Regions from separate parts of the Homo sapiens genome. Here regions 2, 3, 4, 5 and 6 are each linked to region 1. Evidence: fine-mapped expression QTL. A gene starts in region 1. Each other region holds a variant in brackets. All regions are shown on one strand. Distances are from middle to middle.

Evidence for each region.
Region 2: its variant is fine-mapped to the expression of NACC2 in whole blood (TOPMed, PIP above 0.99).
Region 3: its variant is fine-mapped to the expression of NACC2 in lung (GTEx, PIP 0.95).
Region 4: its variant is fine-mapped to the expression of NACC2 in whole blood (TOPMed, PIP above 0.99).
Region 5: its variant is fine-mapped to the expression of NACC2 in whole blood (INTERVAL, PIP above 0.99).
Region 6: its variant is fine-mapped to the expression of NACC2 in whole blood (TOPMed, PIP above 0.99).

The regions. Positions count from the first base shown.
Region 1 is chr9:136,092,371-136,097,440 of GRCh38, forward strand. It overlaps NACC2 (NACC family member 2), which reads right to left and starts at 2,919. Exons shown (of 6, transcript NM_144653.5): 1 at 2,819-2,919. RefSeq lists an enhancer at 935-1,626 and silencers at 2,832-2,961, 3,282-3,381.
Region 2 is chr9:136,072,538-136,077,607 of GRCh38, forward strand. All of the region lies in intron 1 of NACC2 (NACC family member 2), which reads right to left. Among named protein-coding and RNA genes, the nearest start is that of NACC2, 20 kb to the right of the region's middle. RefSeq lists an enhancer at 2,099-2,849. The variant C/G (reference allele first, on the strand shown) is at 2,051.
Region 3 is chr9:136,811,042-136,816,111 of GRCh38, forward strand. The region is part of intron 1 of RABL6 (RAB, member RAS oncogene family like 6); the gene reads left to right. It also overlaps the pseudogene NCLP1. Among named protein-coding and RNA genes, the nearest start is that of CCDC183-AS1, 4.7 kb to the left of the region's middle. The variant C/T (reference allele first, on the strand shown) is at 2,473.
Region 4 is chr9:136,051,719-136,056,788 of GRCh38, forward strand. All of the region lies in intron 1 of NACC2 (NACC family member 2), which reads right to left. Among named protein-coding and RNA genes, the nearest start is that of NACC2, 41 kb to the right of the region's middle. RefSeq lists enhancers at 1-3, 4,115-4,715, 4,716-5,070. The variant G/A (reference allele first, on the strand shown) is at 2,039.
Region 5 is chr9:136,004,893-136,009,962 of GRCh38, forward strand. It overlaps NACC2 (NACC family member 2), which reads right to left. Exons shown (of 6, transcript NM_144653.5): 6 at 1,645-5,070. Among named protein-coding and RNA genes, the nearest start is that of UBAC1, 46 kb to the left of the region's middle. The variant A/G (reference allele first, on the strand shown) is at 2,892.
Region 6 is chr9:135,998,433-136,003,502 of GRCh38, forward strand. No RefSeq gene overlaps it. Among named protein-coding and RNA genes, the nearest start is that of UBAC1, 40 kb to the left of the region's middle. The variant C/T (reference allele first, on the strand shown) is at 3,126.

The DNA of each region.
Region 1 (5,070 bases):
GACCAGACCCAGTCAGACCTCACAAACTCCCGCACCTGCCCACATGCATCAGACGGCGGCTCAGGTCCAGCGTCCAGACGGGCTAGCGCTACTTCTCTCCTGCCTTGGAGGGCGCTCCACGGCCTCACACCACAGGGCTTTGCTTCTCCTTCGAGCCACGCCTGGAAGCCCAGCCCCAGGTTTCCTCAGCCCAGGCCAGAAATGTCACCCTGAAGTGGAAGGTGGCCTACCTTGTCCTCAGAACCACAATGGGAGGCTGGTCAGCCTGGGCCACTGAGGCAGGGACATGTGCTACCAAGGTGAAGGTGGACTGGGCCGGAGGAGCAGCAGAGTCAGGGGGCCCCATAGTCAAGTTCCCAAATGTGTTCGTTACACTGGGGTCTGTAGAAGGCCTTGGTTCTCCGGAGAAACATGCTGGTGTATCCTGGGGTAAGGGGTGCCACCTGCTGCCCCCCTGTGGACTCCGACCCTCATCCCACCGGCCACAGTCCAACTGGATCTCGGAACCCACTGCGTGACCCTGCAAAGGGGATGGAGTGACCCCAAGGGGCTGTGAGATGCAGAGAGGCAGCCTGGGGACAGTGTGTGGAGGTGGCTAGAACAGGGCTGGCTGAGGAAGGAACATGGGCTCTGCCCCACTGACGGTGGCTGGGGCCACTGGGCACTCGGTGCCCTGTGCGTTCCAGGGACACAGGTCAGAGGCACAGACCTCAGAGGAAGGGGCACAAGGTGGAACCTTGGGAACTCAACATCCCGAAAAGGACAACACCTTGGTTCCCCATTCCATCCCTCGGGCCTGGGAGACCACACTGCCCACAAACCAGGAAAGCAGGACTCCGGAGGCAGAGGCCAAGAGGAGTGCAGGCCTGGAAGAACCGCTCAGCACCAAGATCGTCACTGTTGTTTCATGAATAATGCAGCCTCATGCTTTAATTGGAAAACAAAGGGAGGATTGAAGAATTTTTTAAAAGTCACCACTAGCCCCCTGCCCAGGGCAGAGCAGCCCTGCGAACCCTTCCAGCAGCCGGTGGTAAAGAACAGAGCCTGTTCTCGCAGCCTGTAGCAGCCCAGCTCCCACTGCTCCCAGCAGGAGATCTCCCGGGTGGCTCCTCCCCGCCTTCCCGCCAGGCCAGGGCCAGCACCATCGAGCCCTGGGTGTGACCACTGCGAAAGGATCCCTGGCCACTAAGAAGTGACAAGTGATATCTTGTTCCACTCTCTGTGCCCATTCCAAGTGGCTTTGCCGAAAGGACAGGGGGCCACCACCTTGGGTGGCAGCTCCTTTTATTTCCTCCCCTTGGACTCTGGCCCAGCTACCACCCAACAGTGACCCCAGGGGAAAACGCCAAGAGGCCTCTTTAAGGGAGGGGCTGGGAAAGGCCCCACAGAGGACCAGAGGGGTGCTCCAACGGTGGCCGGGAGAAGAAGGGGTGGGTGGCTGAGAGGTGGCGGGTGGGGCGGGGGCTGCCTGAACCCTGACCTAACTCTAGGCGCCCCTGCTGGGGGGTGCTACAGGCTAAAACACCCTGCAGAATGCTGAGCTGAGTGTCCCACTGGAGAACAGGAGGGAAGGAGGTCAGGAGCCTGCCAGACGAAAAGAGGGGTGGGTGAGAAGAAGGGGCGACCTGGAGGGACACGGACTCTGGCAGGAGAGTGCGGCCGCGCTGGCGGGCGGGAACACCAAGGTGCACGCGCTCCCGGAGGCAGCTCCACGGGATGGGAGTCCGGGCTGCCTTGGGCACCCCCGGGTCAGCACCCCCGCCACACACAGGAAGGAACGCGCAGCAGAGAACACAGCTCAGGGCACCCAGCGGCCCAGGGAGACGGGCCCACCAGCACGTGGGTGAAACACCTCCAATCCGGAGGCCCCGCGCGGGGGTTGGGGGAGGGAGTGGAACGGCCTGGGAGGCCAACTCCAGGGACCCGGCCTCGCGGCCTTCAGACCCACAGGTTTAAGCGGCTCCACGACGAGAGTCCAAGACCAAACTTCCCCCAGAGCCTGGCAGAGGGGCTGGGAGGTGACCTCTGACCTCCGACCCCACACGATCCCAGCAAGAGAAGCAGGAAACTCCGTCGGAAGGCCTCGGTCCGCCCTGGCCGTGCGGGGTGCGCGGCGGGCCCCGGGCTCCGCTGAGTTTCTTAGAGAAGGAGCTGGGGCCCCCCGACCTCAGCTCCGCAGAGGCACAGAAGCTGGCAAGAGGCAGAGCCCCCTCCCCCTGCGGCCGGACCCCAGTTTCTCCCCAGGCTGGGGCCCGAGTGGGGGAGGCGCGGGAGGCGGTGACGACCCACGAACGGGCCCACCTGGACCGGGAGGGCGAGGCGCGGGCCCGGCTGGGCCAGGCAGCTGCGCAGATGCGCCGGGAGGGGTGGGTACCTCCGCCCTGGCCCCGGGCCAGTCCTGCCCCGGCTTCCCCACCCGGAGGGCTGGATCGGCCAGTCGGGTCCCTGGGGAGGCCGCGCGGGTCCCCAGAAATCCAGGGAAACCCAGCAGGCGGCGGGGAGCGCCCCGGGACGCCCGGAGCCGGGGTCTCCCCGAACGCGCGGCGCGGCGTCCCGGCCCGGGGTCGCGGGCGCCTCCGCCGGGACCCCCCGGCCCCGCCCGGCCCCCCTCCGCGGGCTCCCGAGGCCGGTTCCCGCGCGCACGCCCGGGCCGGCGCGGAACTCGGCCGCACCCGCCCCGCGCGGCCGGCACTGCGGCAGGGGGCTCGCGCCAAGTTGGGCGGCCGCGGAGTTTGCGGGAAGTGCGGGCCCGGCCCGTGGGACGACCCCGCCCGGCGGCGTAACCCGGGGGCGGCCGCGCGCGCCAAGTTGGCGGTACCTGCGGGCGCCCGGCCCGGTCCGGCCTGGGCAGCTGCGGCGCGCCGCCCGCGGCAGGAAGTGCTTGGCGTCCCGGCGCTCCGGCTCCCATGGACTTTCTCCGACCTCGCCCAGCACCGGCGGCCGCACCGCGGCGGGGGCGGGGCGGCGGCGGGGGAGGTGCCCGCGGGCCGTTAAAGGGACAGCGCGCCGGCCGCGCGCGCGCGCGCACTGGCAGCCAGGTGGGCTCCCGGGGTCGGGGCTGGGGTCCGGGGGCCGGGAGGGTCCCCAGTGGGGGCCGGCGGGGCGTGGGGAACCCCGAGCGCTGGGGAGGGGAGGCGGCAGCTCCTCGCCCCTCGCGCGTCCTCCTTCCGGAGCTGCCGGCGGTCGACCCTGCGCGGGACACCCGGCGGGAGCCGGACGCCGCGGCGCAGAGGACGGAGCTCGGCGGCCGGGTCGGGAAAGGACCTGGAGCGCCGCCCTCCGCCCTCCCCGGGCCCCGGCCTCGGCCGGACTCGCTAAGCCCGGGAGAGCCCCCGGGCCCCCCTACCCCGCCCCCGGCGCGCGCCCTGCCCGCGGCAGTCGCGTCCGCACGGTGCAGCCTCCGGGATCCGGGCGGGGGAAGTGCGCGCATCCGCAGCCGCCCTGGACGCTCAGGCGGGCCGTGAAAGACGAGGATACGGGAGCGCCCTTGGGCGAACGTCTGCGGGGCTCCGGCGCCCGTCCCTGCGGCCCGGGAACTGCAAGCTGCCTGGACTGGGCCTGGCGCTGCCTTCAGGCCTGGTGTGATCCGGGCGCACTGGGGCGTTGACAGTCATTCCGGCACCGGCCACGCAGCTCTCCATCTGCCCAAGGCCACGCTCCTGAGGACAGAGGTGCAGTTTTAAAACAAGGGCACGGAAATAAAACGGCCACACACCCGGAAAGACCCAGAGACCCCTCCTCAGCTGCCCCCTAACCTGGGGCCTGAGGTCAGGACAGGCTGCAGTGGTCCTCAGAGGCTAAGCCAGCCTCACTCCCACAGCACGCTCAAGGGTCCTTGCAGGAGAATGGAGTGATACCGCCTCAGTGGTCCCGAGCGAGGGCGCTGGGAGAAGGGTTGAGAAGGAGATGGCCACCAGCATCCCAGAGAACGCCTTTGGGGCTCTGGGGATCAGAAACCTGGGGCTACAGCCCTTCTGGCACAGTCAGCCAAGGTCATTCCCTGGACAAATCATCAGAAGCTTGGCCAGGTTCTTGTCACCCCAACCTCAAGCTAGGCCCTTGATCTTGGCCACAGACTGGCCCTTGACCCCAACTTTAGGTTCTATTCAGCTCTGCGTCCAGAACACACACACACACACACACACACACTTCACTCCCTGGCTTGCCTTGTATGGGGGTGAGTATGGAACCCCGCAGGGACTCTGGGCTCTCCCCACAGAGTCCCATCTAGACCTAAATGCAGTCCCAGGTCCCACACCCCAACCCCCCTCCCCCCACCACTGCCACTTCCAAACCCGCCCCGCAGTCTACTGTGGGAAGGAGGTGGGGTAGGAGGGTTCTGAGTGCCTCCTACACCCAGGGCATGAGCTCAGCAGCCTCAGGGTTCTGGTGCTTCCTAGGCCTGACTTTACAATCTCTGCAGGATCTCTCAGTGAGCATAGCTACCCCAAGCCCCTGAGAATCGTGAATCCCAGAGACAGATGCCTGGAGCTGCTTCCAGCCCTGGGGCAGGCCTCAAGGGGCTACCCACTAGGACCCGTGGCCCTCCAGGGATGGGAATGATTGTTTTAATCACTTTTATTTTCTAAATATTAAAGACATTCTTCCTTAGTGAAGGATATTTGGAAAGCATTGAAAAGTGTTTAGAAGATAGCGGATAAGCAGAAATCAATTCCCCAATTTCTGTGTGCCTATACGTATGTACACCAACATATATTTGCACCTTTTAAAGCAAACCCTGCATCCCTACTGAATTCCAGGCCCGTGCTACTGAGTATGTACACCTTACCGCATTTAACGTTCACAACAGTACCATGAGGTGAGCTCTGTTTATTCCTTTTTTTTTTTTTTTTTTTGAGTCCGAGTCTCACACTGTTGCCCAGGCTGGGGTGCAGTGGCGCGATCTCAGCTCACTGTAACCTCTGCCTCCCGGGTTCAAGCGATTCTCCTGCCTCAGCCTCCCGAGTAGCTGGCATTATCGGCACGTGCCACCACGCCCAGCTAATTTTTGTATTTTTAGTAGAGACGGGGTTTCACCATGTTAGGCAGGCTGGTCTTGAACTCCTGACC
Region 2 (5,070 bases), 20 kb before region 1:
CTGTCTCAAAAAAGAAAAGAAAAGAAAAAAAAGGCTGGGTGTGGTGGCTTATGCCTGTAATCCCAGCACTTTGGGATGCCGAGGCGGGCGGATCACCTGAGGTCAGGAGTTCAAGACCAGCCTGACCAACATGGAGAAACCCTGTTTCTACTAAAAATACAAAAAATTAGCTGAATGTGGTACATGCCTATAATCCCAGCTACTTGGGAGGCTGAGGCAGGAGAACCACTTGAACTCAGGAGGCGGAGGCTGTGGTGAGCCTAGATCATGCCATTGCACTCCAGCCTGGGCAACAAGAGTGAAACTCCGTCTCAAATAAATAAATAAATAAATAACCCCAAAATGAATTGGAGACTTAAACATAAAACTAGAGGGGAAAGAAAAAAACACACAAGAGAATAAAATATTTGTAGAATCCGGGGCTAGGCAGAGAGTTCTTCCATAAAAGAAAAAAACTGATAAACTGGACTTTATCAAAATTTAAAAACTTTTGCTCAGCACAAGACACAGGTAATGGGATGAAAAGACAAGACACAGGCTGGTAGAAAAAACATGCCAGGAACACATTTAACAAAGGACTAATATCTAGGCTACATAAAGAATTAATTGGCCGGGTATGGTGGCACGTGCTTGTAGTCTCAGCTACACGGGAGGCTGGGGTGGGAGGATCACTTGAGCCCAAGAGTCCAAAACCAGCCTAGGCAACATAGGGAGACTCTGTCTGTACAAAAAATAAAAATAAACTAGCTGGGCATGGTGGAGCGCACCTGTGGTCCCAGCTACTTGGGAGACTGAGGTGGGAGGATCGCTTGAGCCTAGGAGGTGAAGGCTGCAGTGAGCTGTGGTCTTACCGCTGCACTCCAGCCTGGGTGACAGAGCAAGACTGTCTCAAAAAAAAAATTTTTAATAAAAAATAAAAAATGAGGACCCCAGTAGGAGCTGCAGTGGACAGGGGGTGTGAGCGTGGATCCAGCTGTATCAGAGTATAGTCCTGCCCATCAGGGGAGAAGAGGCGCTTGTCTCAAAGTGAAATGCACAATTGGTCTCGAATGCCAAAGAGAACAGGAAAAGACAAAAGACTCCAGTGGATGTATGGACAACCCAAGAATGTTTGCAGAAAGTCGACTTGATTTCCCTCGGTTCATAATACCTGGAAATAAGGAGTATGAAAAGCAGCTGCGTGTGTGCTACAATTTTGGCACAATTTGCTCAGTTTCAATGGGTCTATTCCTAATTGTTTTAAAGGTGCTTATGCATCCTCTACTGCCAAGTACTGCATTTGCGTCCAAGCAGGATTTGGTGTTCTGTCTGCTAAAATGCTGCCTGGTCTTGGAGTATCTGGTCTGCCCAGAAGCAGGGTCAGCAGTAAGCGGTGATCCTTCCCTCTGCCCTGAAAGCAGACCCTGGCTCTCACCGAAGTAACCAACAGGGATTTGCACAGACTCCGTCATGTCCTTGACTATTTTTTTAAAAAAATTAAGATCTTGGCCGGGCACAGTGGCTCATGCCTGGAATCCCAGCACTTTGGGAGGCTGAAGCAGAAGGATCACTTGAGTCCAGGAGTGAGAGACCAGGAGAGATGGTAAGATTATAGTCTCCACAAATAATTTGTTAAAAAATTAGCCAGGCATGGCCAGGCGCGGTGGCTCATGCCTGTAATCCCAGCACTTTGGGAGGCCGAGGAGGGCAGATCACGAGGTCAGGAGATCCAGACCATCCTGGCTAACACGGTGAAACCCCGTCTCTACTAATAAAATACAAAAAAATTAGCCGGGCATGGTGGTGGGCGCCTGTAGTCCCAGCTACTCGGGAGGCTGAGGCAGGAGAATGGAGTGAACCCGGGAGGCGGAGCTTGCAGTGAGCCGAGGTTGTGCCACTGCACTCCAGCCCGGGCGACAGAGCAAGACTCCGTCTCAAAAAAAAAAAGAAAAAAGAAGAAAAAGAAAACAAAGTTCTTCATTCCAGAAACATTAAGGTTCTTTATAAAGATGTTAATAATTTCTGAGGTTATTTAAAATTATGTATCATCCCTTCAATTAACACAGACGGA[C/G]AGGTCAAAACCATTCCTCGTTCTGTCACAGCAAGGCTGCCTGCCTTCCTCAAGGAACCTATCTCTGGTTCAACATTGACTCAATACTGACCGTGCCTCCACCAAGTCACACCCTAAACTGCACCGACAGATGAAGCTGGACCTTCCGAACGACCATCCCCTGTGACTCCCAGAGGGCCCATGTCGGTGGTCACATTCTGTTCCCAGCTCACCTGCGGGGCTCGGGGATGTATCACTCAGCCTCGGCGTCTACACCTCACACAGAGCGGCAGGAAGCGTGGCCTTCCCAGCCGAGGCGGAGTCGGCAGGGCCGGGGGATGCTGGCGGGAATGGGTTCTCGCACGGCCTCCTTCTGGGAGCCCGGGAGCTCTGTCCCCCACTCACTGTCGCGTATGGGGCTGGGGGAACAGCAATCGGATCCTCACGAAACAGTGACGTGAGGCCCAGTAGAGGACGTGACCTCCTCCAGGCCGACGCTCTTGGTTCTGCGTGAAATGAGCCGATTCCACCTTGTCCTCAATGGCGGCTTCTGCTCCCTCAAAGCGGCAGGCCAGGAAGTGGGGAGCCCCAGGTGTGGGTGCAGCAGGCTGCAACGCCCCCCACACACAGACTTGGCCTCAGACAGCTGTCACATGGCACCAGGGAGGTGGCCAGGACTCCAGGACACATTCTGGTCCAGTCCGGCACTGACCGGGATGAGGGAGAGCTGGCTGCGGCCGCCTGGCTGGGATACTTGGGGGGAAAGCCCTCCCTAGCTCCCCCGAGGCTGGCTGCTGCGAACTGACTGAAGCGCTCATTACAGGGTGTCCACTCTCCCCGGGCTTGGAACTCGGAGGCGAATGTCTCCCCGAGCCTGTTTCCCTTTCGTAGACGTCGGCAGCGGCTCCGTGTGAACCTGCCGTCTCCTACATCGCGGTACAGTTTCTCAAACAGATCGCGCAGCTGGGGCCAAGCCCAGGCTGTCGTGCCTGAGGACGCATCTTCTTTTATCGGGCATAGGCCCACATTCAGGGTTCGGGGTCGCAGGTCCTGCGGGAGCAGAGCCTGCAGGGCCCCCTCAGGAAACCTGTGCTGATGCTGTCCTGAGCTCCCTGTGCCCGGTCTTCCACACGCGGGGAGGACACCCCCGTGCAGACTGCGCCCAGGGGAGGAGACCCACCCAACACCCACAGGCCCTGTCGGTGAAACCTCAGAGACAGGGGTCTTGGGTTTGGGCTCTGAGGCTCGGGACACAAGATTCAATAAGAGCAAAGTCATCTCCTCTGGAGTGAGAGGCTGCTGAAAACGGAACCCAGGCTTTCCTACAAAGCGCCCAGGAGCAGCCCCGCAGCCCTCCATGTGCTCAGTGCCTGTGGCCCTGGGGCTGCTGCCCACTCCTCTGCTGCATCTGTGACAAAACTCCGAGACACCCGCTTCTCAAAGCCCTGCATGAAGGTTACGTGTGGTCACGAAGAGATCCTGCAAAGAACAGTCATCGAAAACTTGGAAATAAAGTAAACAGGCACCCTTCGCGGCCTCTGCCTGATTTGCAACTCAGTAGTGATGACACCCCATACCCCGTGACATCCTAAGTCTCCTATATGCAACCAAAAGAAAAGCAAATGATTTCCATCCAGTAGCAAAGAGAACCCCAAGGGGCAGCGTTTCCCGGCCCTGCGGAACTCGAAGAAGTGCTGTAACTAACCCAACAATCTATCCAGCCTCCTCTCCTCAGTGACTCTAAACACCCAGTTCCTCAAATGTTCTCTGAGCCAGGTTTCCTGCCCATACCACGACAAAAATGAAATGAAATTCTGATGCACCCCCCAGCCCGGTGAACCTCAAAGACACTATGCCGAGTGAAAGCCACCAGGCACACACAGACAACGCCACGGGGTTCCACTCACACGCGGGCACAGAGCAGGACAGTTCAGAGACAGGAAGCAGAACGGAGGTTTCCAGGGGCTGGGGGACTGCGGAGGGGAGTTGGTGTTCAATGGGTGCAGTTTCGGTCAGGGATGATGAAAACGTTCTGCAAACAGAGGTGAGGGTTGACAGCCATGGGAATGTTCTTACTGCCACTGAACTGTGCGCTTAAAAAATGGTTAAAATGGTGAATTTCATGTTGTGTATATTTGACTACAATTTTTAAAAAATGTATTGGCCTGGTGGTGGCTCATGCCTGTAATCTCAGCACTTTGGGAGGCTGAGGTGGGTGGATCATGAGGTCAGGAGATCGAGACCATCCTGGCTAACACGGTGAAACCCCTTCTCTACTAAAAATACAAAAAAAATTAGCCGGGCGTGGTGGCGGGCGCCTGTAGTCCCAGCTACTTGGGACTAGGCGGAGAATGGCGTGAACCCAGGAGGCAGGGCCTGCAGTGAGCCGAGATCGCGCCACTGCACTCCAGCCTGGGCGACAGAGCGAGACTCTGTCTCAAAAATAAATAAATAAATAAATAAAATAGCCGGGTGTGGTGGCGGGCGCCTGTAGTCCCAGCCACTTGGGAGGCTGAGGCAGGAGAATCGCTTGAACCCGGAGGTGGAGGTTGCAGTGAGCCGAGATTGCGCCACTACACTCCAGCCTGGGTGACAGAGAAAAAAACAAACAAAAATTAGCTGGGCGTGGTGGCGGGCGCCTGTAGTCCCAGCCACTTGGGAGGCTGAGGCAGGAGAATTGCTTGAACCCGGAGGTGGAGGTTGCAGTGAGCCAAGATTGCGCCATTGCACTCCAGCCTGGGCGACAGAGCAAGACTCCGTCTCAAAAAACAAAACAAAACAAAAAAAGCAGAAGAGAAACATGGCCTTTGGCAAAACAAACAAACAAACAACAAAAACCCTAACAGGGCACAAAGGACATTGTTGATAAGTCGTGCTTCATTAAAATATTGAAAAATAAAGACCAACACTAAGAGAAAAAACAAGCCGAGAAGGACAGACCTTTGCAACATATGTATCTTCAGCAAAGGGCGTGTGGTCAGAGTATGGAAAGAATTCTACAAATTCTACAAATCCATCAAGAAAAGGGAAACGCACAGAGG
Region 3 (5,070 bases), 720 kb after region 1:
ATAAAAACTCGAATGAGACATTGGACCATAATGGATGAAAAAGTCAAACTCTGTCAAATATTTGAAGAGATTTATTTTTGAGCTGAATATGAGTGACCATGGCTCGTGACATAGCCCTCAGGTGACCCTGAGGACATGTGCCCAAGGTGGAGGGCACAGCTTGGTTTTATACATTTTAGACATGAGACAGTAATCAAATACATTTAAGATATATGTTGATTTGGTCCACAAAGGCGGGACAACTTGAAGTGGGGGCTTCCAGGTCGGAGGTAGTTTAAAAAAATTGTGTTTTTTTGCCGGGCGCGGTGGCTCACGCCTGTAATCTCAGCACATTGAGAGGCCGAGGCAGGCGGACAACCTGAGGCCAGGAGTTCAAGACCAGCCTGGCCAACATGTCGAAACCCCGTCTCTACTAAAACTATAAAAATTAACCGGGTGTGATGGTGGGTGCCTGTAATCCCAGCTACTCAGGAGGCTGAGGCGGGAGAATCGCTTGAGCCCAAGTGGCAGAAGTTACAGTGAGCTGAGATTGTGCCACTGCACTCCAGCCTGGGTGACAGAGTCAGACCCTGTCTCAAAAAAAAAAAAAAAAACAATTGCACCACCACACCCAGCTAATTTTGGTATTTTTTAGAGAGACAGGGTTTCACCACGTTGCCCAGCTGGGCTCAGACCCCTCTACTCAAGCAGTCCGAACCCCTTGGCCTCCCAAAGTGCTGGGATTACAGGCGTGAGCCACCGCGCCTGGCCAGATTATGTTTCTTATCAGACTTAAAGTCAGTGTTGATGTTAAATGCTGGTGAGCTTTTCCTGAATTCCAGAAGGGAGGAGGCCACAATGAGGCCTGTCTGACTCCCCTCTTCCCATAATGGCCTGAACCAGTCTTTCAGATGAAATTTGGATGGCCCTGGCCTAGAAGAGGAAGTCCATTCAGATGGTTGGCAGGCCTTGGGATTTTAATTTTGGTTTACACAATTTTGAAATTATTTGCATATAAAATTATTAGGAAAATTATTTGAAATTATTTGGAAGAAAGATTGTTGCCTGAGTTGGTCTGTCCCTTTCTACTGTGACTGGACACAAAATATCAGTTGTATTTGGTGCAGAATTTTTCTGTGGAGTTGCTCCTGAGTGAGCATTATTGTGCAGCTCTGATACTGGCCTGGCCCAGGAGCTCGGACAACCAGAGTCCTCTCTGAGTAGACACTGGTGCGAATTTAGAAATGGGACTTAGCAGGCCGGGCACGGTGGCTCACACCTGTAATCCCAGCACTTTGGGAGGCTGAGGTGGGCGGATTACATGAGGTCAGGAGTTCAAGACCAACCTGGCCAACATGATGAAACTCATCTCTACTGAAAATATGAAAATTAGCCAGGTGTGGTGGCGTATGCCTGTAATCCCAGCTACTCGGGAGGCTGAGGCAGGAGAATCGCTTGAACCCGGGAGGCAGAGGTTGCCGTGAGCCAAGATCACACCACTGCGCTCCAGCCTGGGCGACAGAGTGAGACTTCGTCTTAAAAAAAAAAGAAAAGAAAGAAAAGTTTATATGAATATCCAGTCAAAACAAACAAGGAAGGTATTACCCTTGAAATGTTGTCTATACGAATTTCCAAGGAGACCACAGGACTGTAGACTGTCTTGGAATGTCCTCAGAGAGCTCTGTCATTGATCAGGTAACGGAATAAAAACCCCAGCGTCCTTTCTTTCAAATGGGAGAGGGAAAGACAAAGGGACAGAAGCCGTTCAAACTTTGTCTTCTTTCCTTGTGGCTTGTGGTCACCTCTGCCTCCCCAGAAGCTGCCTCGCCCACCAAAGCCTTCCTGGCTTCTGCCACCACCTCATCCTCCAAAGCTTCCTCTACCTCCATCACAACCCCAAAGCCACCTTCGCCCTTAGGTTTGGCCCAGTCCAAGTTACCTTTGTTTCCCTCAATTTCACCATCTTCCGCGGCCTCCTTGGCGCTTTTGGCATCCTCCTCACTGTTGCCATCTACAGAGCCAAAGCCTTTGGGGCACCCGGTTTCCTGGTTGGTGACTACCCTTGCCCAACAAAGCTGTCGAATGACTAAAGCCTCTTCAGTGGTGTCCTCAGACAGGCCTTTGACAGACAGTTTTAGATGGCTGGCTCCTGGCATCAGGTGGTCCTTGCAACTCCAGCCTGATTGCCCTGCCCCCAGTTTCCCTTTTATTACAGGAATTTAAAGCTGCTTTATCATCTTCAAATGAAGCGAACTGTAAGTGCATGCACACCCTTTAGATTTGCCATTTTGGTTCTGGGGCACTTTGATAAAAGTTGCCTTGTCTCAGATTCTTTCTGAAGAGTTTCTTCTGTTGCACTGTAGGAGAGGTTGCTTAAACCAGAGTTTTTGATTCACCCCTCCAAGTGGTCTCTCTAGTCTTGATTTAGACCTTTCTCTCCATGATAGTGCAGGGAAATAGATCGGCCATCCATCTCTGTTCCCTGCGTTTCTT[C/T]AGAAGTTTTCTCTGCATTAGCTTCTGTCTTAACCTCAATATAAGCAGTCCCTTTACTCTTCCCATCCTTGCTGACTAATCCAATCTCCACAGCATCTTCAAACACTTTTTTGTTTTTTGAGCCAGAGTCTCGCTCTGTTGCCCAGGCTGGAGTGCAGTGGCCGTGATCTCAGCTCACTGCAAGCTCCACCTCCCAAGTTTGCGCCATTTTCCTGCCTCAGCCTCCCGAGTAGCTGGGACTACAGGCACCCGTCACCACACCCAGCTAATTTTTTGTATTTTTAGTAGAGACAGGGTTTCACCGTGTTAGCCAGGATGGTCTTGATCTCCTGACCTCGTGATCTGCCTGCCTTGGCCTCCCAAAGTGCTGGGATTACAGGTGTGAGCCACTGCGCCACTGCGCCCAGCCAAAACACTTGTAATTCATCCTGAGTGACTTTGTAAGGGAGATTTGTAGCCAAAAGTATTCTCACATCTTGCTCTTTCTTACTGTCTTTTCCTTTTGGTTTCTCTAGTTTAATTTCATTGCCAAAGTCTTTCAAACCAGCGAGTTCCAAGGCTCTTTCCAGGTCTTCAGCAGCTTGAAAATCCACATAGTCAGATTTCCTTGTCATACCCATTCTGACATCCACAACAGCAAGATCATTTTTAGCAAAAATATCATGGATACTAGTTTTTGTTTTTCTTTCTTTTTCGAGACAGGGTCTTGCTCTGTTACCCAGGCTGGAGTGCAATGGTGCTCACTGCAGCTTCCACCTCCCGGGTTCAAGTGATTCTCCTGCCTCAGCCTCCCCAGTAGCTGGGACTACAGGCACGCACCACTACGCCCGGCTAATTTTTGTATTTTTAGTAGAGACAGGGTTTCATTATGTTGGCCAGGCTGGTCTCAAACTCCTGACCTTGTGATCTGTCCACCTCAGCCTCCCAAAGTGCTGGGATTACAGGCGTGAGCCACCAGGCCTGGCCCATGGATACTAGTTTTTAACTCAGGAGCAGACTTGTTAAAGTTCAGGTTTCCAACAAAGATTGAAAGACGTTCCAGCCTGGCCAACATGGTGAAACCCCGTCTCTACTAAAAATACAAAAATTAGCCGGGTGGTAGTGGTACACGCCTGTAATCCCAGCTACTCAGGAGGCTGAAGCAGGAGAATCACTTGAGCCTGGCAGGTGAAGGTTGCAGTGAGCCAAGATTGCGCCACTGCAGTCCAACCTGGGCGAGAGAGTGAGACCCTGTCTTAAAAAAAAAAAAAAGGCACAGTTGGTTCTGTGCTTCTCACTCTCCACTTTGTGTTTCTTGGCTTCAGAAGCTGCTGTTTGGTCATTTCCTTCATTTTCCAGGTGCTTCTTTGACAGACCCTTCCTCCTCTTTGTCGTCTTCATCACTTCATCCTCTTCATCATCGTCACCCTCGTCCTTGTCCTCATCATCCTCTTCATCTTCATTCCCAGCCATCCTCTTGGCTTTCCCAGGAACAGCATTTGTAGAAGCTTTCTTTCCTTTGGCTGGTGTTGTTTCCATAGGTGCTGCTTCAGAGCCATCTTCCTCAGCATCGTCCTCATCGTCCTCGTCCTCATCCCCTGAGGCAGGGGCACCCGCTGCTGCCTTCATCACTGCTGGTTCAGAGTCATCCTCCTCCTCATCGCTGTCTTCCTTCTTGGCGTTCTTGCCGTTCTTTGCCCCCTTGGCTGGGGTGTCCCTTCTTGCCAGGAGCTGCTGCCAGTGCTTTGCCTGCTATGGCTCCCTTCTTGGCAGGTGTGGCGACTGCTTTGCCTGGAGTGACAGTTGCTTTCTTGGTGGGTGTGGCACCTGCAGCCTTTTTTGTTCGGGAAACTGTCACCTTCTTGGCTGGGGTTGCAGCAGCCTTCTTGCCTTTCTCCTGAGGTGTGACAGTCTCTTCTCCACAGCTGTCATCTTCTTCATCTTCTGACATTTCCTCATCTTCACTTCCTCCTTCTGCCTCCTTTGGGGGAGCAGCCATTTTCTTGGGGTCACCTTGGTTTTTACCTGCCTCGACACCAAGTAGTCTGAAGCTGCTGAGGATGGGAAATCTTTGCAGGGTGCAGAGTGGGAGAGGAGCAAGGTGTGGCTGACACCAGCTGCAGCACAGGCTGTCAGGGTGGGGAGGTGGCTGGGCCCTTGTAATGGGCCCAGGAGATGCTGCTGGCACTGTGAGAGGGCCTGGTTAGGAGTTAAACCTTCATGCATCTGAGATAAATCATAAGCTCTTCTTGGTATGAAAATGTAAGAAAATTATTCCATATTTTGCAGGAAAGCTGCAGGAATGTGAAGGAGTTAAATTGAATCAGGGTAAGAAAGGCTCAGGGCCTCAAATAGAGCTCTGTGTTTTCTGCATTGTATCTTCTAAAACAAGCTTAGAACAGAGGTCGTGTTCACATCCCGTTTAGTAAAAGAGCAGGTTTACCATGAGGTTAAGTACAGGTAAGTACAGGGCTTCTTAGCGTTTCTTGGATGAATCCTAAAGGTTTTCCAGGAGAATCACTTAGCTTATTGCAGCCAACATTTAAGATTCTGAAGTTAAGCAGAAAAAAAGAAAACCCAAGATCAAGGGACCAGCAGGAGAAAAAAAAGATTCTGAAA
Region 4 (5,070 bases), 41 kb before region 1:
CGGGAAGACCTACCTTCAGCCGCTGCGGCCGCCGGCCGGCACTGCCCGCTCCGCCTGGCAGGACAGGCTCCCCGCACGCAGCCCGCCTGCCCAGCTGCTCCGCGAATGCAGCAAACGGAGCGGGAGCCCTGGGGCGGGGAGGGCGCAGGGAGCCGGCAAGGAGGAGGAGGAGGAGGAGGAGGAGGAGGAGGAGATGGTGGAGGAGGAGGAGGAGGAGGAGGGCAGAGCGCCTGGGCGCTGGGCTCGCGGCCGCAGCTCAGCTGCACCCAGGCCGGCCCTCCCGGGCAGCGCACCGCATCTCAATGAAGGGGCCGGATGCAGACGAACGTTCCGGCGGCTCGGGAATGAATAGCCGCCTTTGATTTGGGAGCCGAAGTAAATGCCAGCTCCCAGCCCCGGCTTTAAAAACAGTGGAGTGTTGGTGCCAGAGGAATGCGCGGCCCCGGGTGCTGGTACGAGACAGACTTTTGATGACTCACTGCAATGCAAACAAAGATGGCAGAAATACTGTACAGTAGTGGAGAAATGCTTCCCGGTGCCACGGCAACTGAGACAGCCTGGAAATTTATGGTGCAGTTTTGCATATGAATTACCCAGTAAACTGCCTCCCGGCCTTCCAGGACAGCCCCAGTGTCAAAGCATTTAAACTATTCCAAACAGTCTGCAGAGCTGGCAGAGCTGAACTCCTCCAGCGAGGGTGGGGAATGGGCAGAGGCGCCAGGGGGAGGGGGTGAGGGGGTCAGGACAGCTAGGGGAGCCAGGGAAGGGGAGGGGAGGTACAGCAGGGGGTGAAGAGAGGCACAGAAACGGCAGGCAGTGGGTGGGTGAGGCGGCACCCCAGGTCCTGGGGGCCTTAGAGCTGTGTCCTCTGCCCAGGCGGCAGGCCCGGGAGTCCAGCCCCAGCACCCCTCCCCATCCCACTCCCAGCGCCCTCCTGGCACTTTAAGAAAAGAGCGACTTTGTGGCCGGGCAACCAGGAGCCGGAAGGGGCAGCCCCGCCTGAGAGGTCCCAGCAGAGGGCAAAGCGGCCGCCTCGCTCCTCCCGCACACTCCTGGCTGCGGCCACACAGGCTGCACCTCCTGCCCAAGGGGGTCTGCAGCGTCTGGCTGTTATTGAGCCTTTTCCTGGGAAGGGGCTGCTGCTGTGCAGGACTTGTGGTGGCCCCGGGACCCCTCCAGAGAATGTGTACTTCATCCTGGGCTCATACCAGCCTCTCTGCGTGGGGCCCTGAGGCTGACCTCTGGACTGCCCAGCCTCAGTTTCCCTGCCACTGGCTGTGACCCCCAGGAAGAGCACATTCCACCCAAAAGAAGGGGCAGGGTCCAGGCTCGAGGCCTTGAGGTGAGCCCCCTCCTGCTTGGCCAGCTGCCTCCACCACCCTCGGGGTAACCCTGGCAGCAGGATGCGGAGGAGGCCCGAACAGGCCTGGTGGGAGGCAAGGCGACACAGCCCTGCCCCTCACTCCCGGCGCCCCTCTGAGGCATCCGGAGACCAGAGAGAGGGCCATCTGGCTCCTCCCTAGTCACACACCATGGGCTCAGCTTCTCCAGACCAGACAAAAAGCCACTGAATGGGGACGGGAAGAGATCCAGGTGCGGGGAAGCTGCCGGCAAAGGCCCGTGGAGGTGGCTTCGTGCCTAGTGTTTTCTGCCTCCTACAAGGGGCTGGTGACAACTCAAGGAGACTGGGATGGGGGCGTTTACAGAAACGTCCCCACTCGGCCATGCTGATGAGCTGGGCTCCACCGGGCCAGGAGACACAGGGCCCAGCTGTCACCCTCCCCGCCACACCCTCCACCCTCAGGTCCCCACTTAGTTTCTGCCTCATCCAGGAAGTCTGCCAAGTGCCCTCATAAGCTCGGCAAGGGCTGAATGCTGGACACAACCCGGGCAGGGGGGTACAAGAGAGGGGCCTGTGCAACACAGCACAGAGGGCAGAGGCCCCTAGACAGCTCCCTTCACAGACCCACTGCGCCCACCACCAGGAGCCTCCCAGAGAGCCCGTGGCTTCTGTTGTGGGCAACTTCGCCCCAAGGAC[G/A]GGGGGGTAGGGATGTCTGAGTCATACAGGGGCTTTTGTACCAAAAGAGGGGACAGGCAGAGGCCAGCACGGCGCACCGGTTCCTGGGGGTCCCAAGTACCTGGGCTGGGTAGGGCAGCAGCCAGGGCTGACACAGACAGCAAGGGACAATGTAGGCTCTCAGCCTGTCCCTTCCAGCAGCAAGAGGGTCCTGGCCTGTTGGCAAGGCTGAAATCCTAGGTCCCGTGGGCACCAGCCACTTCCTGTAAGGACACCTCAGCCTCAGACGCTGAGCTGTGAACTGGGGTTATGATTTACCCTCAGATGGTTCCTGGGGGTGAATGGAACAATGTTTGTGAAGCCGGCGGCTGAAGCCTCACACACAGAAAGCCGGTGATGCCTGCAACCTGCTGTGACCTGGGCAGGAGAGCAGCTCTCAGCTGGGCATCCAGGTGGGCGTCTTAACGCCCAGCCCAGTTCGGCCTGCGTCCGCACCTCAGGAGCTGGAGCCCCAGGGCTGGGGGACAGACCAGCTCTCCCAGAGAAGGGACCATTATTCCCTTTGAAGGTGATGGGGCCGTGTGGTCCCTGGGGATCGAGGACAACTGGAGCTTTTGCTGGCTTGTCCTCAGGCCACCTGCACCGGTGAGGCTGCAGCCCCACGCCCCAGCCTGCTGAGAGCCGGACAGGAGCTGGTTTTAGGTTGCTTTCTTGGAAGGCTCAAGAACAAAGCTGAACTTTAGGAGAAAAGAATAAAATAAAGGCTTGGCTCACGCCCCCAGGGCCAGGAAAGCAGACACACGGGGGCTGACCCTCCTGCTACACCCAGAGAGGAGGGGGCCGAGGGCCCAGGTGGGCCCAGGGACGTGAGCAGAGCTGTCTGCTCAGGAGGGCAGGGGCCAAGCCTGGTTCTCAGACATCAGGGCATCCCCACCCTCCCCTGCACATTCTCCAGTGACTCAGTTTCCCCACCACTTTGCTTCCCAAGCAACACCTCCTATTGTTTCCCCTTCTCGGTGAGATTCAACACACTCATTCACTTATGGAAAGTTCTGCAGAGCCAGGCAAAAAATCAGAGGTCGCCAACTTTGTTTACCCCAGCCATCCTCAGGGTTGTGGCACCAACGACCCTTGCTCTCAAAACGCCCTTCAGAACAGAACCCACTTTGGAGAACCTCTGCAGGTGACCCAAGGCCCGAGTCCACTCCCTGCAGCTGTGCCAGCCTTCGGTGCCCCACCCCACACAGACACACAGAGGAGGCTGGGTTCCTCTGAGCCCACAAGCCACCCTCAGGAATAAGAAAATACAGGTGGCTGTGGTGTCGGAGTGGGGGGTCTCTCCTCTGCAGAGCCTCACTTGAGGAAGGCTGAGATCCAGGCCTGCCCTGCCCTGGGGTTAGGGGTTGCCCACCATGATGAGCCCCATACCCAGCAACCTGCCGATGGGTGAGAGGAGCCCGCGGGGAGGACAGGGGCTCACTGGAACTGCAGCCAGACGCGCACACAGGGGTTGGGGCAGCGTCTCCAGAACGACCCCCCTGCCTGAGTGTCGTCCCGGCAGGATTCACACAAGGACACAGGTTACAAGGTTGGTGCCAGGCCAGGGCACCTGGGTCCTGGCATCAAGTACCCAGGAGCAGAGGCTCTGGCAGGTACAAGACCCCTGAAAGCATCCCCCAGGCCAGAGGACTGGGACAGGGACCAGTCAGGCAGCCCAACAGGAGGAGCCCTTTTCCTGGGGCCCAGCCAGGCAGCTCCATGGTCTGAGGGCCTCGCCCAGAGTCCCCAGAAACCCTGCCCCCTCCACCCCTAGATTGTAAAGCACTTTCTAAGCCCAGCACAGCAAACCAGAGGAATGCGGCACTGAATTTCTGCAGGATCACCACCAGCAAGGGGAAGGGAGGCGAGAAAAATTAAATTAAATTAAATTATCTTGCAGGATTTAATTTCACCAATCTAATAAGAGGTTCTGGACCTCAGCAAATGCACAGCCATTAAACACGTGGTAGAGGAAGGAGAGAGGCGGGGCACGGGAAACGTTCTGCGGAGGGGAGAGTCCCTCTACCCCGAGCCCCGGCCCCTGGTGGAGACTGCCTGGCAGTTAGTTAAGTGAGGACATCTCCTAAAAGGTCAATCGAAGGCGCTCCTGGAGCGTGAGAAGGTGTGGGGATGGGGCGGGCCTGCTGTGCCAGGTGCTCTGGAGTCAGCAGGAGCACAGGGGGTGTTAGGAATACAGTCTGGGGGCTGCTACCCCGTGGACCTTGCCCACCTCCGCGCAACGCCTTCCCTTTCCCATACGGTGCAGGCTCCAGGAGGATTTGCTTTGACCCTATACCTTCAGAAAAGAGGCCCTAGGGAGGACAAGGGGGCGGCAGGGGGCCCGGAGGTTAACCCTGGGGGGTAGAGGCTGCCCAGCTCCGGATGTGCCAGGGCCTCAGGGAGCTGGGTGTGGCACCAGCTTAGCCCTCAGGTTTGCATTAAACTTTTAAAATGCCAGAAAGCAGAGCTGGGCTGCCCGGAGGCCTGGCTGCTAATGGAACCACCAGCTCCATGCAGATGAGATGCAGCAGCTCTGGGCCAGGGCCCTCGGCGGCCAGGAACTCCCCCCAACCCCGAGGCCCCCACAAAAGCCAGGATGGCGTGTGCCGTGTGCTCACCTCCCCGCTACTGGACATACAGATGAGGAAACTGAGACCTCACAGTCGGGAGGCAGCGGGGCCAGGCCCCTAGCCATCATCCTTCCTGGGTGGTCTCTGGTCATCAAGTCACAAGAGCCAGAGAGGATGCCTGGCCCCGCCCAACAGACCCCGGGTAGCTACGACCCTGACCTGCCAGGGCCCTAAGGACTCTGTGGCAGAGAGGAGAGTTCCACCCAGGAAAGGGGCGCAAAGGCCCCCAGCTTCAGGGTCACAGAGGTACGGGGGGTCTCTGGGATGACGGGCCCCCTCGGACTATCACTGTCGCCCCAGCCTGGGAGGTGGAGGAGAGCCATGCAGGGCTGGGCCCAGGCCGGGCTCTCTCCGTTCAGCCAGGTCCCTAGGCGGCTTCTACCC
Region 5 (5,070 bases), 87 kb before region 1:
CCGTGGGTCCTGCTGACACAGCGCCCTCCTCCTGTCCAAACTGACAAAGGGGGTGGGAGGCCCATGCAAGGCTCCTGATGCCTCAGCCGGTTTCTGTCGGGGCTGCAAGGGCGAGGCGGCCGTGGGAAGGATGGGGGACGGGGAATGGGGGACAAGGGATGGGATGGGCAGCAGGTGCCTGGCTCCCCCTCCTCCTTGGAAAACCAGGGCCGACTTGGTGGAGGACTGGGCTGGGTAGGCCCCCTCCCAGAGTGGCAGGATTCCTGGGCCAAGGTGGGGCATTCTCCACGACCCTCCCTCCCCTAACTGGGCCACCCAGACCTCAGCAGTCCTAGCTGCTGAGGGGGCCTGGGACCCACCTGGGTGCGGCATTTGGGGTCTTGCAGGTGTGCATCCAAGCTGTCTGTCCTCACCAAGCTCCCCACCAGCCAGGCAGGTGCTGGCCCTGAGAGCTGGGGGCTCTGCTCCTTCTCCAGGAAGTTGAGTCGGATACACTTACCCTGGAGGCCTGGGGCTGGGCTTGGTGGTGGGATGGGGACTGGAACACTCCGTGTTCCCTGGCCCCCACTGGGGAACAGACCCCTTGGGCATTCCTGGTGGGGACAGTGTGGTGATGTGGCTCCTGTAGGAGGCAATGGCTCAGGGTGACCTCAAGCGCCATCCCCTTGCCACATGGGCCCTTCCATCCAGGGGGCCCATATGGAAACCACATCCATCCATTTGAGACAATCAGGGGCTGCCCTATGCTGGCTCCAGAGGACCCTCTTCTGGGAACATGGCCATGAAGCCCTGCCCAATAAATCCACCACCTCCCTCCAGTACGGCGGGTGCCATGAACCCTGTGAAAGGGGAAGAGAGGCCAGGGAGGGGTGCCCGTAAGGTGATCAGGGGTGGTCCCCTGGACGAGACCCTCACAGGACCGCAGGAAGTGAGGAGCCTGCCAGGAAGGTATCCAGAGGAAAGTGCTTCCAGACGTAGGAGGCACCCATCAAGGGCCCGGCAGGACAGGTCTGGGGGACACATGATTGCAAAGCACTCAGCCTGTCCTTGTGGATACGCCAGAGGAGCAAAAGGGAATGGGGCTGGCCACGCAGCCTGAACCCCAGGACACCAGCCCCAGAGCTGGAGAGAAGGCCAACCCCGCGGGCCCAGCTCTGCCCACCTGCACTTGTCTCTCTGTTCACCTGGGGGCAGACATGGCCCGGGAGGGGGTGGGGGAGGGGGAGGGAAAGAAGGAGCCACGCACCTTTTGGGTGGCAGGTGAGGCAGATGAAGGGGCTGCCCCACTTCTCAGACAATAAAACCAAGGTCCCGAAAAGGAGACCCCCCGACCCTGGCAGGTTGCCTGCGGGTCCGGACAGGGCCCCCCTCTAGCAGGCACACTAGTACCTGCAGACATCCTACCCACCTGCCCCTTCCCTTGTAAAACACTGGGGAGAGCAAGAGATGGGTCAGGTGACCTTGAACCCCACAGCCAGATCCCTGCCCTGTTGTGTGGACAGCTGGCCTGGGGACGCCGCTAACAGGGACGGGGTCCTGAGGGTGCCCCTGGGGGACCATTGGCCACCCCTGCCTTCAATAGCCCAAGCTTGGCTTCTCTGTGTCTCCCCCAAACCCCACAGGGCCAAGCCAAGTCCAGGAAACTTAGGTTTGAACTGACTTTATTATTTTGTAAATGTGAATTTTACAAAGCGCTTTACAATTAATGATCACATCCTTTTGTTTGTCATGGATTTCCACTGTCTGAAACGGCTCTGAGCACGCTTGAAGCCCTCGGTTTCCCTGTTCGCTTTTGAATGTTTCAGTTTTAGTTATTGATACAATGTCAGCCATGGCTAAAAAGTAACAGTCTTGACTCTACCGAGTAACAGCACAAAAACAGAGTGAGGGCTCAGGAAAACAAAACAAAGGCTTCCTCCTTAAAAAAAAGACAAAAAAAAAAAGCTAAGCATCTGTGGCTGAAATCTAACTCAGTGGTACTGTGAAACCTTCCTTTACAGCACAGGAAAATTTATTTTTTAACAGTCGTGAGTTACAGTACTTTAACCCCTAAACAGACTCTTTAAAACAACCGTCTCCTTTTTAAAAGTCTCTTTTTTCCAAACATTCCATCCGAAGGATGGATGCTCTACTTGCACCCAGTGCCATCCAAATCTTCAAGTCAAAAATATTTATACATTTTATACTTAGTTCTTTTTTTTGTCTGCTAAAAATAGTATTGCAAGTTTTGGCTTCTTTTGACATAAAAATCACAATCGTGTACGATGCTAACAATGGAAGCGACTGATCGGAATACGAGCCGGTCGTCCAGTCTGAATGCTTGCGATTCTGCATGATTTTCCTTTCCTTTTCTTTTTCCAAAGAAACAAAACAAACAAACACGAAAAACCTTTGCCATTTTAGAACCATCTTGTACCAAACCCTAAATGCTCCGGTGGTGACGTGCACGCGCGTGCACACACACAGACACACGCGTGCACACATACACAGACACGCGTGCAGAGACACGCACGTGCACACAGACGCGCGTGCACACATACACACAGACGCGCACACACACGCGCACACAGACGCACACACACAGACGCACACACGCACAGACACACACATGCACAGACGCGCACACACAGACGCACAGACGTGCACACACAGACACGCACACACACACAGACACGCGCACACGCACACTCTCACCCACGGAGCTGGCTGGCTGACATGACAAAAGTATGCAGCAGCAACATTCTGAAACAGTAGTTACAGCTGAGGACAGCTACGAGCTCTGGATTCTGCGCTTAGGACTCGCTGCTGGCAGAGGCAGACAGAGGGTTCTTGGAGTTTTCAGTTGGTTCATGGGCCATAGATCTTTTTCCACTTGCTGCCAAGATGTTTCC[A/G]TAAAAATTTCCCTTTGAGGGGAGCCCAGGCAGTACACGGCTGGGTGGGGTGGGGGGACTGGGCCAGCGCTTAACAGTTTCAGCTGTCGAATGAGGACAGGTCAGGGTCAGGCACTAGAGCCCCCTCAGAGGGGGACCAGCCCTCCCTCCCTACCTTCCGCCTTCCTCCTGGCTCTAAACACAAATGCCAAAGAATGACTCTTCCTGGAGGAGAAAGGAGGCCAGGCAGCCGGCTCCTATGTTCTAGGAGCCCCGACCCGCAGTCACCAACGCCGGCACCCCCAGGCGGGTCCTGCTGACCTCTTGCCCACAGCTTTGTCCACATTCAGGGGCAAAGTACAACAACCAAATCCAATGCAAAGTTAAGTGACGACAGAGAACTCGGGTGGACAGACACAATGCGGAAAACAAGACAGAATTCAAGTACCGAGGCACCCAGCCAGGCGCGGCCCGCCGGGCTCACAGTATCTGTCACACCTCCGGTCCCTCCTGGACCTCTCCATGCAACCCAGCTGCCTCCTGGGCCCATCCCCTTGGGGAAGAGGAAGGCAGGGCAGGAGAGGCGGCTAGATCCCAGGCCCACCACCTGCCAGGCGGCAGCTCCAACACGGTCCAGTCCCTTCTGTCCTCCTCAAAAGGTGTGGAGATAACGTAGCTCTGTAATAGATTCTATATAGGATATGCGTATTGCTAATAGTCAGGCTTAGGGATAAAGGTGCAGACATCTCATAAATACTGAGTGGCTCGTCTCTCTCTACAGGGTCTGGATGAGTCAGGGTCACACTCACAGGACAGGACAACCCCGGATTCTAGAATTAGTCATCTTGTAAACAAAGGAGGGAAGGGTCCGGCTTTCTTAATTGGTTTCCTTGGGAAAAATGATCAAAGGATGCTAAGGCACTCTGGAAGGCCCCTCTGAGCCCGGGCCGCCGCCCCCGCCCCACGGTACATTCAGGACGTGGAGGGAGCACACAGCAGGTCCGCTCAGCAGCCACGCACGTCCACAGACACTCCCGACTCACGCCCACCGTGGGACACATTAGTGCAAAATGCTCGGCCTGGCCCGCCCGGGGCGCAGGGAGAGCTCAGAACCCATTCACATTAAATTATTATTATTTAAGTTTTATCTATAGCTCTTGCCTTCCTTACCCAGAACAAAACAGACGGCGATTACAAACGAGTGAGGAAGGGGCACGGGACATTGTGCGGGCCTGAACAGCAGTCAGGCGTCCTCTGTGCAGCCACCACCTCCGGCAGCAGCCAGCGGCTCCCTCCCTGTCCTGGCCAAGGGTGGGGGGGCACCCACTTTGGAGTGGAGGGCAGAGAGAGCCCTTCTGTCAGCAGCCAGGCCCCCAGGGATGGTCAAATTAAAGTGCAAATTTGGGTGTGGGGCAGATGAAGGAAACTCCAGAGGGAACTCAAGTGCAGCTCAACCTCACCTACCTGCCCCTGCTCCACCCCGCGGCTTCCTCCCATCTCCGAGGAAGGCTTGGTCCAGGTTCCCAGCGGGCCCCATGGGGGCTCCAACCCCACCTGTGCCCAAGACAGGGGAGGAAGAGGCAGAGAAAGGCTCCCTCTAGGCTGGGTGGTTCTTAGTTCAGCAGAAGGTCTGGATGCCTCTGCACCACTGAGCCACCTGCAGCCCTAGGAATGCAGGTCTTGGTCCCCCTGGACGTGGGCCCTGAGGAATGGGTGGAGGGGCCGAGGTTAGCGTCCACAGTGCCTGCCCATGGTCCCCCACCTCCTTCTGGAAAGCAACGTATTTTTCTGGAGGGCAGGCATGTGCTGGGCCTGGCTGGAGGCAGCCCAGGAGGCTGAGTGCTGTCTGTAGAGGCGGCCCCACGGGAGGTCTCCTAGGGCCTCGCCACAGGGGTGGGCTTCGGGGCAGAAAGGAGCCGCCCAGTGGGAATGCGTCTAACCCACACCCTGTAGGTCCCCAGGCCAGGGTGCAGCACATGGTCCTCCCCTAGCGGAGGCGGCCTCCGCTTGATGGGTTGTGGAGGTTGGGGGAGTGGGGTGCGCTGGTCGGCCACCGCTCACTGGCCTGTGTGCACACCGGAGGGGGTGCTGATGGGCGCAGGGCTGCACTTGTTTTGCAAGTGAAGATGGGGAAGCCGAGTTCTGGAGGGACAGAGGTGAGCAACAGACATTTCAAGTCTTGGGATGGGGGGTTCTTCTG
Region 6 (5,070 bases), 94 kb before region 1:
GACGGGAGGTGACCCCCATTCCTCCTCCCCTGGGTGCAAGGAGCTGGAGCCCGGTGGGGTGGGCACACACAGAACCAGGAGGAGCAGGAGGAGCCTCTGTGGGTTCCCCTGGCGCTGTCAGGAACCAAGGCTGCCAGCCCTGCCGCTCCAGGGAGGCACAGGCGCCTCCAGGCCGGCTCCAGAATCCTGCCAGCCCCTCTGTGCTTGGGCCTGGGGGCTTCTTTCTGCCACAGCCACTGTTACGATGGAGGAGAGACACTGTCATCAGCTTCCTGCCCCCTGGCCAGCACCTGGGCTAGGTTGGCACTGGAGGTGCGCTCACACGCCAGGTGAGATGCCAGCCGGGAGCAGGGCTCCCCAGGCCTCGCTCACAAAAAGCGTGGGATGCCCCTGCTGGCCCTCGGCTGTGGCTGCCAGTTCTCACAGCCTCAAGACTCTGATTCCAGAAACTGAAGTCAGAACAGACAGGTGCTGCCCAGGGACCTGCCCCAGCCCTGGGACCTGTGACATGGGCCCCGTGTCCCTTCTGATGCAGAATCCAGTCACCAAGCTCCAACTCTGTGGTCATGCCTGGCTGTTCTGGGGTGAGCAGACTGCTGGTGCCCCACAAGGCCTCTGCAGCGGCTGTTGGTGATTTGGCCTCTGGTGACACTGAGATGGGCCTAGAGCAGCCCCTCCCCCAGGCAGTGGGACCCTCTCTCTTCCCACCCCTCCACTGTGGGCAGCTCTGGGTGGATGGAAAATGGTTTTATTTTTATTTTTATTTTTTGATGGAGTCTTACTCTGTGGCCAAAGGCTGGAGTGCAGTGGTGTGATCTTGGCTTACTATAGCCTCCTCCTCCCGGTTGCCTAACCATGCCCGGCTAATTTTGTATCTTTGGTAGAGATGGGGTTTCACCATGGCTGGTCTCAAACTCCTGACCTCAAGTGATTCGCCCGCCTCGGCCTCCCAAAGTGCTGGGATTACAGGCATGAGCCACCGGCCGGGAAATGGTTTTAGTGCAAATACCATAAGCAAGGCAAAGGCTGGGAGGCAGTGAGGCCCACACTGTCAGCAGCCAGGCAGGGGCGGCCCAGCCATGCCCCAGGGAGGGGTGTTCCCTAGAGGAAGGGCCCCAGGGTGCTTTGTCCTCCCCTGCTCAGCAATCTGAGCAGCCAAGGCTTCCAGAACCCCATTATCAGCAGACCCAGATCTCAGGCGCCAGCATCAAAGAGAAAAACGCAAGCAAGTATATCTGGCATCTCGGAGGAGGGTACAAGATGAGTGGATATTAAAACACCGAACTTTGGGCCGGGCACGGTGGCTCACGCCTGTAATCCCAGCACTTTGGGAGGCCGAGGCAGGCAGATCACGAAGTCAGGAGATCGAGACCATCCTGGCTAACACAGTGAAACCCCGTCTCTACTAAAAATACAAAAAATTCGCCGGGTGTGGTGGCGGGCGCCTGTAGTCCCAGCTACTTGGGAGGCTGAGGCAGGAGAATGGCGTGAACCCAGGAGGCAGAGCTTGCAGTGAGCCAAGATCAAGCCACTGCACTCCAGCCTGGGCAACAGAGTGAGACTCTGTCTCAAAAATAAATAAATAAATAAATAAATAAATAAATAAATAAATAAATAGAGAAACTCAGAACTTCTCTTGGGCCAATGCCCACCCCACAGCAATGTGACAACCACGGAGGCCCAGTGAGCTGGGAAGGCCTCCAGGCCCCGGTACAGGGCTCCGTGGTGAGCAAGGAGAAGCGTGCATGTGGCCGGGACAGGTACAGGATGGCTGCGGAAGTGGGAGTGTGACCGCTGACAGATTTGCTACCATCCAGGTCAGAGGAAGATTTTTTTTAACACTCATCCATCTGGTACAAAGGGAAACCATTCGTAAGCCCCGGTGTTGGTAAGGGGGCGGCATACAGGCACATCTCCGGCGAGGACCGCGGATGCCTCTCGGGCGGGCCGTGAGGACACCTCCACCCCGGCGTTCCCATGAGCCCAGCAAAGGGAAGCTGAGCAAAGATGCGCAGAGCACCCCGATCTGGACGAGGCCTGCAGACCACAAAGCTGGATGCAGTGAGTGTGCAATTGTTGTGTGAGGCTGTCCGCACCTGGGTCCGTGTAGTCTCTGCACACGAGTCTGTGCTGTATGAGGAAAAAGCCAGGTCTCTCCACCAGAGAGTGTGGGCCGTCCTCTCTGGGCAGGAGGGATGCCCTTATGGCCTCACTCTGTGTGGCCAGGATGTTGAATGCAGAGTCCAGGCCCATGCCAGACCCCCAGAGCCAGATCTGTGCACTAACAAGATGCCCGGGGCGGGGGGGGGGGCGGGGTTGGAGGCACAGTAAATGTGAGGAGCCTGATGGAGTTCATGCCCTTGGCTGAACATGTGGGGAAACTGAGGCACAGAACAAGGCGATCTCATGAAAAGGTGGCATCAGAGGGGTGTTCCAGTGTTGTTTGGGGGTGGTTTTTGCTGCATGGTGGTTTTTGCTCCCACAGAAAAGGGGTGCTGCTTGGTCAAAGCTTCAGCGGTGGGGAGGGAAAGGAGTGGGGTGGGCAGCAGTGAGGCCCCTGGGGGAAGGGGCAGGATTCTGAGGACATCAACAAGGCAGGGCTGGCATGGGAGACAGGTGCAGGCCCCTGCTGGGGAAGTGATGGGTTTCAGGGGGTGGGGGGCTCCCTGCCCTGGTGGGGGCGGCCTGGGGTGAACCCTTCCTCCAAGCTCGTCCGACCCAGGCTACCAGGGAAAGACTCATGGCAGAGGCCTCCAGAAAGAAAGGGGCTTGGGTCCTCCCTGAGCTACTTGTTTAGAGCAAGGAGCCTCCATCTCTCTCAGACTCACCCCCAGCCCCCAGCCCTGGCCGGGTCACCTCGCCCGCTGTCAGCAAGAACGTGGCTTCAGCTTCTAAAGCAGCCCTAAGGTTGGCCGGCTTGGCCCGTTCACGTTCACGGACACTGGCCCCTCCTGGGTGCGGGAACTGCCTCAGGGTTGCAGTCAGGTTGGCTGGGCTGAGGGCGCCTCTGCTTAACCCTCTCCTCTCCTGCAGGCCCTGAGTGAACCCAAAGCCACTGCTGGGAAACACAGAACGTGCCGGGAAAGGCCTCCCTCTGCAGCTGCTCCTGGCATCCCTGCACGGGG[C/T]CTGAGGCTTGTCACAGGCCACGAGCCGCACGCCCTGCCCCGCCTGGTCCTCTCAGCAGCCTTTCCCCGGGGGATCAGTTTCTCTTCCCCACCCTGTCTTTAAATATATACACGTACTGTATATGTTTTTTTGTTTTTGTTTTGTTTTGTTTTTGAGACGGAGTCTCGCTCTGTCGCCCAGGCTGGAGTGCAGTGGCATGATCTCGGCTCACTGCAAGCTCCGCCTCCTGGGTTCAAGTGATTCTCCTGCCTCAGCCTCCCGAGTAGCTGGGATTGCAGGTGCGCACCACCACGCCCAGCTAATTTTTGTATTTTTAGTAGAGATGGAGTTTCACCGTGTTAGCCAGGATGGTCTCGAACTACTGACCTCAGGTGATTCGCCCGCCTCGGCCTCCCAAAGTGCTGGGATTACAGGCGTGAGTCACCGCACTCGGCCATATACGTATGTTCTAAACCCACCATTTTGGCCATTTTTCAGTGCACGACTCAGTGGCACTGAGCACAGTCCCCTTGTCCTGCAGCCATCACCCTCCGTCTGCAGAAGGCTTCATCTTCCCCAACTGAAGCTCCGCCCCCACGAAACACTGGATCCTGCACCCACAGCCTGGCCCCTCCATCCTACGTACCGTCTCTGTGATTTTGGTGACTGGGCACCTCACGAAGTGGACGCTTGCAGGAGGGAGTTGTCAGCCTGGCTCCTCTCACCGAGCCTCGTGCCCTTGGGGTGCATCCCTGTTTTAGGGCCCATTGTGTTGCACTTGGTGGGTGGACCTTTTCTGTGGGTTGTCATCCGTTCATGGGCTCTGGGTGGCTGCACCTCTGGGCAGTGGGGAGGGGCGCTGCCGTGACCGTGGTATCCTGCAGGGTCTTTGGGGCCACCCGAGTGCTTCTCCCCAGGGACCCCGATCCACCTGCCTGGCTGCAGCCAGGCTGGTCTGAGGGCGCCCCAGGGAGGATTCCTTGCCTTTGGGATGGCCAGGCTGAGCCCAGTGCCCAACCCAGCTTTGGTGCTGACTCCCTCACAGGTGTCCTGAGCTTCAACTGGCCACTGTGCAGGCTCTTGCCACTGCTACTGTCAACCTTCCCAAAGAGCCACCTCCATGTCACCCTGTTCCCTGAGGAACAGGGCCAAACAGCCCAATCCATCCCTCCTTGGAGGAGAGCCGAGGAAGCCCCTCGTGGTGCGGGTGGGGTGACGTGAAGGGACAGGTGGCACCTCAATGTGTGTGTGTGGTAGGAAGGAGACCTCAACCCTGGGCTGGGATCCCAGTTCCAGGGCCACCCCTGGGCTGAGGCACCTGGAAAGACACGTCCCCTCTCACCAGCTCACAGGCCCCAAGCCCAACCTTGAACCGGGTCTTGTCTGTCCCAGAGCCCCTTCGTCACTGGGAAGTGCCTGGTCTCCAGGAAGGGTCCTGGCCGACTGATGAGGGACATGGGACAGCTGGGGAACCAGGTCCAGTGGCCAGCCAGAGCTGCGGACATTCCTGGGCTGCTGGAGCCTCCCAGCTGGAGGGGAGGGAGGAGCGGGGGATGAAGACACGTGTCCAGGGCCTCGGAGGCTGTCCCTCTGTCCCTCTGCCTCCTGACTGTCCCATGTGACCATCCCTCCTTCTCTCCCGAGTGCAGCCCACAGCGGGGCCGCAGCTGCTTCCTTGAGAGGGAGCCTAGTTTTGCCCTCAGGAGGACTCCAGGAAGAGGGGCTGAGGGGAGTGAGGGGTGGGCACCGGGGAGCTGGCTCCTCAAGGGCTTGGCTTGGAAGGGGGGGGGGGGCACCCTGAAGCTCCCGTGCCAGGGAGAGCTGCCTCCTGGTGCCAGGGTAGGCATCCGGCGCTGGTGCTCAGGGAGCCCCATTCCAGAACCTGCCCGACTACGGGGGCCAGAGGGACACATAGTGACCTCCCCAGGTGGCCTCATCTTACCTGCTGGAGCCGGGAGCCAGCCA